Homo sapiens: one gene and its partner. The protein of the gene in region 1 purifies or fractionates together with the protein of each later gene. This does not show direct contact. Each region holds a gene or a part of one and is shown in the gene's direction. Other genes may lie near its edges.

Region 1 (3,473 bases):
TATGTGTTCTAAAAACTTGAAATACATAAGAGAACAAAACAAAAGATCCTGGCACTCACAGGGCTTATATTCTAACTCCTCTATTAATATACAATAAACATATTAAGTCTGATTATGTAATATGTTAGAAAGTGATCACTACAATGGGAAAAAGAACAATCCAGAGCCAGGCGCAGTGGCTCACGCCTATAATCCCAGTACTTTGGGAGGTCAAAGCAGGCGGATCACCTAAGGTCAGGAGTTTGAGACCAGCCTGGCCAACATAGTGAAACCCCGTTTCTACTAAAAATACAAAAATTATCCAGGCATGGTGGCATGCCCCTGTAATCTCAGCTACTCAGGAGGCTGAGGCAGGAGAATCACTTGAACCTGCGAGGCAGAGGTTGCAGTGAGCTAGGATCGCGCCACTGCACTCCAGCCTGGGCAACAGAGCGAGACTCCGTCTCAAAAAATAAATAAATAAGTAAAAATACAAAAATTAGCTGGATGTGGTACCAGGCAGGTGCCTGTAATCCCAGCTACTCAGGAGGCTGAGGCAAGAGAATCTCTTGAACCCAGGAGGCGGAGGTTGCAGGGAGCTGAGATCGTGCCACTGCACTCCAGCCTGGGTGACAGAGCGAGACTCTGTCTCAGAAAAAAAAGAACAACTAGAGCAGAGTGAGGGTGATGATGGGTTGCTCTTTAAACTAGGATGGTCAGTGTAGGCCACATCTAGAAGGTACGATTTGAGCAATGGCATGAAGGAGGTGAAAAGTTGGTCTTGTAGATATCTGAGGATACGAGTTCCAGGTGCAGGGAACAGCCCATGCAAAAGCCCTAAGTTGGGAATGCGCCTGGTATGTTTCTGGAGGAACAAGATTAGTGTGGGCAGAATGGAGTGAGGAAGAAGAGGTCTACTGTTTGGGGGTCCGAGGGGAGGTTTTTGTTTTCTTTAGAGACAGGGTTTTGCACTGTCAACAGGCTGGACTGCAGTGGCATGATCATAGCTCACTGCAGCCTTGAACTCCTGGGCTCAAGTGATCACCACACCTCAGCCTCCTGAGTAGCTGGGACTCCTTAGGTGTGTACTACCATGCCTGGCTAATTTTTAAATTTTTTTCTAGAGACAAGGTCTCAGTTCACTGTTGATTTCCTCTGGAAGATTTCTGTGACTCTCTTGGAGCCTCTGGGCCAAAGTGCTTCTCCGCTCTTTAGTAACCTGCCTTTTCCGAGGTAATAGTTTAAGGCTGTTTGGCATGGATGTGAAGTTCTTCTCCAGCCTAACCTCTAACAGCCTACAGTGTTCCACCATGTAACTCACTGTTTACTTGTCTAATTCCCTGTCAGTGGGCTTTCAGATTGTTTCTAGGTTTCCATCACTATGACAGCACTGCAGTGAACACTCTTTGCTAAATTTCTGACTGAATCCAAGATTTTTCCTTAGAATAGATTCTTAAAAGTGGGGGCCAGGTGCGGTGGCTCACACCTATAATCCCAGCACCTTGGGAGGCCGAGGTGGCCAGATCATTGAGGTCAGGAGTTTGAAACCAGCCTGGCCAACATGGTGAAACCCCGTCTCTACTAAAAATACAAAAATTAGCCAGGTGTGTGGGGCGTGCGCCTGTAGTCCCAGCTACTTGGGAGGCTGAGGCAGGAGAATCGCTTGAACCTGGGAAGCAGAGGTTGCAGTGGGCCGGGATCACACCACTGCACTCCAGCCTGGGTGACAGCAAGACTCCATCTAAGAAAACAAAAAAAAAAAGTACGATTGGTGCGCCAGAGTGAACACAAAATGTAAAGACTTGTGTATTTGTGAGACCCTTTTGAAGCATGCTATCTCCCCAGCTACACCCTCTTCAGGTGCCCCTTCCCTGCCTCCTCCTGCTTTTCACACTGTGGCTCGTGGTTCCAGGCTCAAGCACGGACATCAGTGAGGACTGGGAGAAAGACTTTGACTTGGACATGACTGAAGAGGAGGTGCAGATGGCACTTTCCAAAGTGGATGCCTCCGGGGAGGTGAGTGGGCCTGGTGGGTCAGAGGGAAGCGAGCCTAATGGTCCTGGGTGTGAGAGCTCTCCCCAGCCAGCCCAGCTGTCCCCTCAGGAGGGTCCCTGCTCCTGTCTGAGGTGACAGGTGGTGGGAAAGGAGCTGGAGCTTCCTGCTCAGACCCACAACATTGGTCATCAGCAGGCTGCACTTTTCCTCAGTTCCAGGGTGGATAGAGGGTCAAGTTCTTGACCTTAGCTCTGTATCAAAATTGCCTGAGAAACTGCTTAAGAAAACAGATGTCATGCTGAGCGCGGTGGCTCACACCTGTAATCCCAACACTTTGGGAGGCCAAGGTGGGAGGATTGCTTGAGGCGAGGAGTTCAAGACCAGCCTGGCCAATATAGTGAGACCCCATTTCTGTTTTTGAAAAAAAAAAAAAAAGGAAAAAAGAAAACAGACATCAAACCCTGCCTGACCTTCTGAGTTGTGGTCCTCAGGTATGAGGCCTGAGTATATACTTGGCCTTGGAGACAAAAGACCAGTGTGATCAAGGGCAAGGGCAAGTTACTTAACCTGAGCCCCTGGTTCCTCATCTAAAACATGGAATTGATCATTATAAGACCTGGCTATAAGCTGTAATGAGGTGATCCATGTAGACACCTTAGGGCTATTGCCTGAGACATGGTGACCAGCACTCAGGAGACATTAGTGATAAACCCCACAAAACCCATTCCAGTTATTAAGCTCAAGGAGGCCTTAGTACTGTTATTCTTCACTACCTCTCAGAATCAAAAGTGGCTCATTTAGATTGAGAGGCTGGAACAGTCCAAAGCTCTCCCAGCTAATAAGTGACAGGACTGAGGCTGCAACCCAGACATCTGATTCATGTCAGCGTTAGTTCCACTGTCACATAAGAACCACATGAGTCCTTCCATCATGTAACTTATGAGCCTGTTAGAAAGAGGTGGACAGATTAGAGAGACATGTGAAGGGCCTCCTTTTTCATGATGGGAAACTGAAGCCTTGGGGGAGTATTTTACCTACTCAGGAGTATTTTGCACTTGTGACTACCTCACTATACCCAGGACAGAGAAAGCCCATAGTGCCCTGTCAGGCCACAGGGGCTTGCTGGCTTTTTGTGTCTTTGCAGCCCCCTTTAAAACCTGACGTGCAGTACACGTGAGCATTCTAGAACCTGCTATACCAGGGCTTAGCCGACAGCAGGCCAAGAGTAGGAACAAAGCAAGAAAACGTTCCGTGGGGAGACTTGAGCTGGGAATTAGGGTGTTGGTGCCCCTAGTGAAGACCTAGTGGGCATCTGTAGGCCACTGCCACCTCTGCTTTTGGCCACAGTGCCACTCAGGCAGTGGCCTCCATTCACCCAAAGACTAAGTAACTTGCCCTTGATTACACTGGTCTTTTGTGTCCAGGGCCAAGTATCTGCTCAGGCCTCCTGAGTTCTCTGCTTCTCAGAGCCATGGCATTATCTGCTCAGCAGGAGGCAA
Region 2 (3,819 bases), on another chromosome or scaffold:
TCCGTCACCCAGGCTAGAGTGCAGAGGTACCATCATAGCTGACTGTCACCTCAAATTCCTGGACTCAAGCGATCCTTGTGCCTCACTGAGCCTCCTGGGTAGCAAGGAATACCTGCACATACCACCCAGCTAATTTTACTTCATTTATTTTTATTTATTTATTTAGGCAGAGTCTCGCTCTGTCACCCAGGCTGGAGTGCAGTAGTGAGATCTTGGCTCACTGCAACCTCTGCCTCCCGGGCTCAAGTGATTCTCGTGCCTCAGCCCCCTGAGTAGCTGGGACCACAGGCGTGTGCCAGCACACTCACCTAATTTTTGTATTTTTAGTTGAGACAGGGTTTCGCCGTGTTGGCCGGCTGGTTTTGAACTCCTGCCATCAAGTGATCCGCCTGCCTTGGCCTCCCAAAGTGCTGGAATTATAGGAATGAGCCACCATGCCTGGCTGTCCTGCCTTTTTAAATAAGAGCTTATATTCAAGGTGACATTAGACACTTAATGAATCGTGAGATTTTAGACAGTGGCAGTGCTGTGAAGGAAATAACTCTGACGTGTAATCTTGCCTCCATCCCTGTCACTGTGCCGAAAAAGATCACTGCTCACTATCTTTCTGTTTTTTAAACTTAACTATGGGTTTTTAAGACTTAGAAAAAAGGAGAGAGGCTAGCAGAGGGAACCATTGCTCAGTGACAGCGGCTGTCAGGCACAACAGCACAAATGATGCTGTTTTTATATTCCCCTTTCCTCCCCCTTTTCTTTCTCACTTTGGTGTTTGAAAGCCCCTTCCAGACATTGCATCACATCACCCTGGGCCTGGCCCTGGTGGTGCTTCGCTGTGCCATCCTCATCTGTGAGCCTGCCCGGTGACCGTGCTGCACCTGTCCTTGATGCCCTGTGTCTTCCAGGTCTGCTCCTCCCCTGCTGCTCTTCCTGTTCCATGTTCTTTGGCTGGTTTTTCTTTCTTCTTCCAGCTGTGTGACTCCTTTTCAAGCCTTTGTCCAGTTAAACATTTTACCAAGAATGTAGTGTTCTTCCTGCATTTCATTAGGAAGAGAAAAAGGCTTGCAAACATTCTGAGAAAAAATGTTGTTCACCGAGGCTATGTGTTTTGGAAATGCCATTTAGATGTTTTGCTGCTTTTAATCTTTGGCATTAATTTCAGTTGCTGTCATAAAAAAGAATTAAGACATAAACCAGAAAAGTAATTAAATGTGTCTGCAAAGGAAAAACAGAAACTGCAGAATATGGTATTTCAAGGTCATAAATTACAAATGTGCATATTTATTATTCCCCTATAAAATGTTAATTAAAAAATTTTCATATTTACTTGATGTAACAGAAATGAAACCTGTAATGAGGGATCTAATTTCTTTTTCTTTTTTCATTCCAGAATGTATGACAACATGTCCACAATGGTGTACATAAAGGAAGACAAGTTGGAGAAGCTTACACAGGATGAAATTATTTCTAAGACAAAGCAAGTAATTCAGGGGCTGGAAGCTTTGAAGAATGAGCACAATTCCATTTTACAAAGTTTGCTGGAGACACTGAAGTGTTTGAAGAAAGATGATGAAAGTAATTTGGTGGAGGAGAAATCAAACATGATCCGGAAGTCACTGGAGATGTTGGAGCTCGGCCTGAGTGAGGCACAGGTACGAGTGAGAATGACTCAGACGTTATCAGGAACTTTTGATGGTAAAATGGAGACTTGTTTGAAATAAGCAGTTTCACTAAAGAAGAGGAAAGATGATTATAGAATAACAGATCCAGGCCGAGTGCGGTGTGGCTCAGGCCTGTAATCCAAGCACTTTGGGAGGCTGAGGCAGGTGGATCACTTGAGGTCAGGAGTTTGAGACCAGCCTGGCCAACATAGCGAAACCCTGACTCTACTAAAAATACAAAAATTAGCCGGGCCTGGTGGCTGGCGTGTGTAATCCAGCTACTAGGCAGGCTTGAGGCAGGAGAATCACTTGAACCTGGGAGGCAGAGGTTGCAGGGAGCCAAAATTGCATCACTGCACTCCAGCCTGGGTGACAGAGCGAGACTTTTTCTCAAAGAAAAAACAAAACAAAACAGATCATGTGTTCTGTATGTTAATAAATTACTATTGATTTGGGCCTATCAGAATTGTATTGATTGATTGATTGAGATGGAGTTTTGCTCTTGCTGCCCAGGCTGGAGTGCAGTGATGCAGTCTCGGCTCACTGCATCCTCTGCCTCCTGGGCTCAAATGATTCTCCTGCCTCAGCCTCCCAAGTAGCTGGGATTACAGGCATGGGCCACCACACCTGGCTAATTTTGTATTTTTAGTAGAGACAGGGTTTCTCCATGTTGGTTAGGCTGGTCTTGAACTCCCAACCTCACGTGATCCACCTGCCTCAGCAAAGTGTTGGGATTACAGGCGCGAGCCACCATGCCCGGCCTCTGAATTTTATTTTTATTTTTATTTTTTTGAGACAGTGTTTGCTCTCGCCGCCCAGGCTGGAGTGCAATGGCTCAATCTCAGATCACTGCAACCTCTGTCCCCCGGGTTCAAGTGATTCTCCTGCCTCAGCCTCCCAAGTAGCTGGGATTACAGGCACATACCACCATTCCTGGCTAATTTTTTGTATTTTTAGTAGAAACTAAAATGTTGGCCAGGCTGGTCTTGAACTCCTGACCTCAGGGCCTCTCTGAATTTTGAAAAGCGGATCCAAAATAGTGGATACTGCTGTGTATCATTTAGGATTTGATTTGGCTGCCAGTATCAAAAAAACAAAAACAGTGGCTTAAACCACAAGATGTTTGTCAAATAAGTACTGAGGTACACTCTCCTGGACGGGTTCTGTAGCTACACAGTCATCGGGGATACTCAGGTTCCTAACATCTGCCACACTGCACCTTGGCAGCCTGTCTTGGGGACTGAGAGTGAGCTCCATGTGGCCCTGTTCTAGCATAGGGGAAGGGAAAGGAAGGACGTGCCTCCTTCCTTGAAGGCTGCTGCTTTGATGATGTGTACAGCAGTGCTTACATTGCATTGGCCAGACCTTATGGCTGTACCTGGGTGAGTGGGAGACTGGGGAATGTTGTCTTCCCACTTACAGTGGCAGGTCCTTAAGCCTAAGGAAGGAGAATGGACACTGGCCAGTGGGTGATGGTCTCTGCAATCCCAGGGCCAGATTGCTTCATATCTTTGACTAACCTTTGTTTCTATAATATCATGCTTGACATAGAGATGAAAACACTGGAAACATCTAGGTTTTTAAATACTCTCTCCTGATAACTTCTGGCTCTGTCAGCATATCTTAGGTAAAATTAAATATACCAAAGCTTTGCTTCTTTCTTAGCATTCTCTAGTTTAGTGAGTGAATAGAGCAGAAGAGGGGCTGCTGGCCAGCGGTTTCTGCTTTCATAGAGGAAGTGACTGCCCACACCCTGATTTTAGAGTCTTCATCCTAACCATGTTACAGCCTTGAGTTGCAGAACTGTAGCTCTGTTTGGATATTGTGAACGTATTATTTCTCAAGTTCTGTTACCTTGAGAACAGGTGACATGAATTTAAACTTGCTTTTTTGGTGTCGCAGATAAGAGTTTTAAAAAAAGAAGGAAGAAAAGGTCCCACCTTCTGGAGTTTCAGGTTTTAAACCTAGGAGGATAATAACCTGGTTATTATGTTATGAGAGGGATGGGCAGATGTATGTTCTAAAGAGAGAACAGATTGCTGCCAGCCAGCTCCTAGCTGTTTGTGCTCTTATGCTCCTAGGAACTTGCCACAGCCTCACGCTGGTCTGTTCCAGAAACCAGTGAGCACTCTGTAGGCAGAGCCCTGGAGTGGCCCCTGGA

What was found.
Region 2: the proteins of BSDC1 (region 1) and KLC1 purify together in Homo sapiens (affinity purification with western blotting, with the first as the bait; one study listed by BioGRID). This does not show direct contact.

Annotation. Positions count from the first base shown.
Region 1 is NC_000001.11:32,366,969-32,370,441, reverse strand, and holds part of BSDC1 (BSD domain-containing protein 1), read left to right. Parts: intron 1-1,103; coding exon of another isoform or gene 1,104-1,212; intron 1,213-1,891; coding exon 1,892-1,995; coding exon of another isoform or gene 1,996-2,109; exon of another isoform or gene 2,110-3,473.
Region 2 is NC_000014.9:103,653,177-103,656,995, forward strand, and holds part of KLC1 (kinesin light chain 1), read left to right. Parts: intron 1-1,387; 5' UTR 1,388-1,388; coding exon 1,389-1,649; intron 1,650-3,819. UniProt on the Homo sapiens protein: Kinesin is a microtubule-associated force-producing protein that may play a role in organelle transport. The light chain may function in coupling of cargo to the heavy chain or in the modulation of its ATPase activity.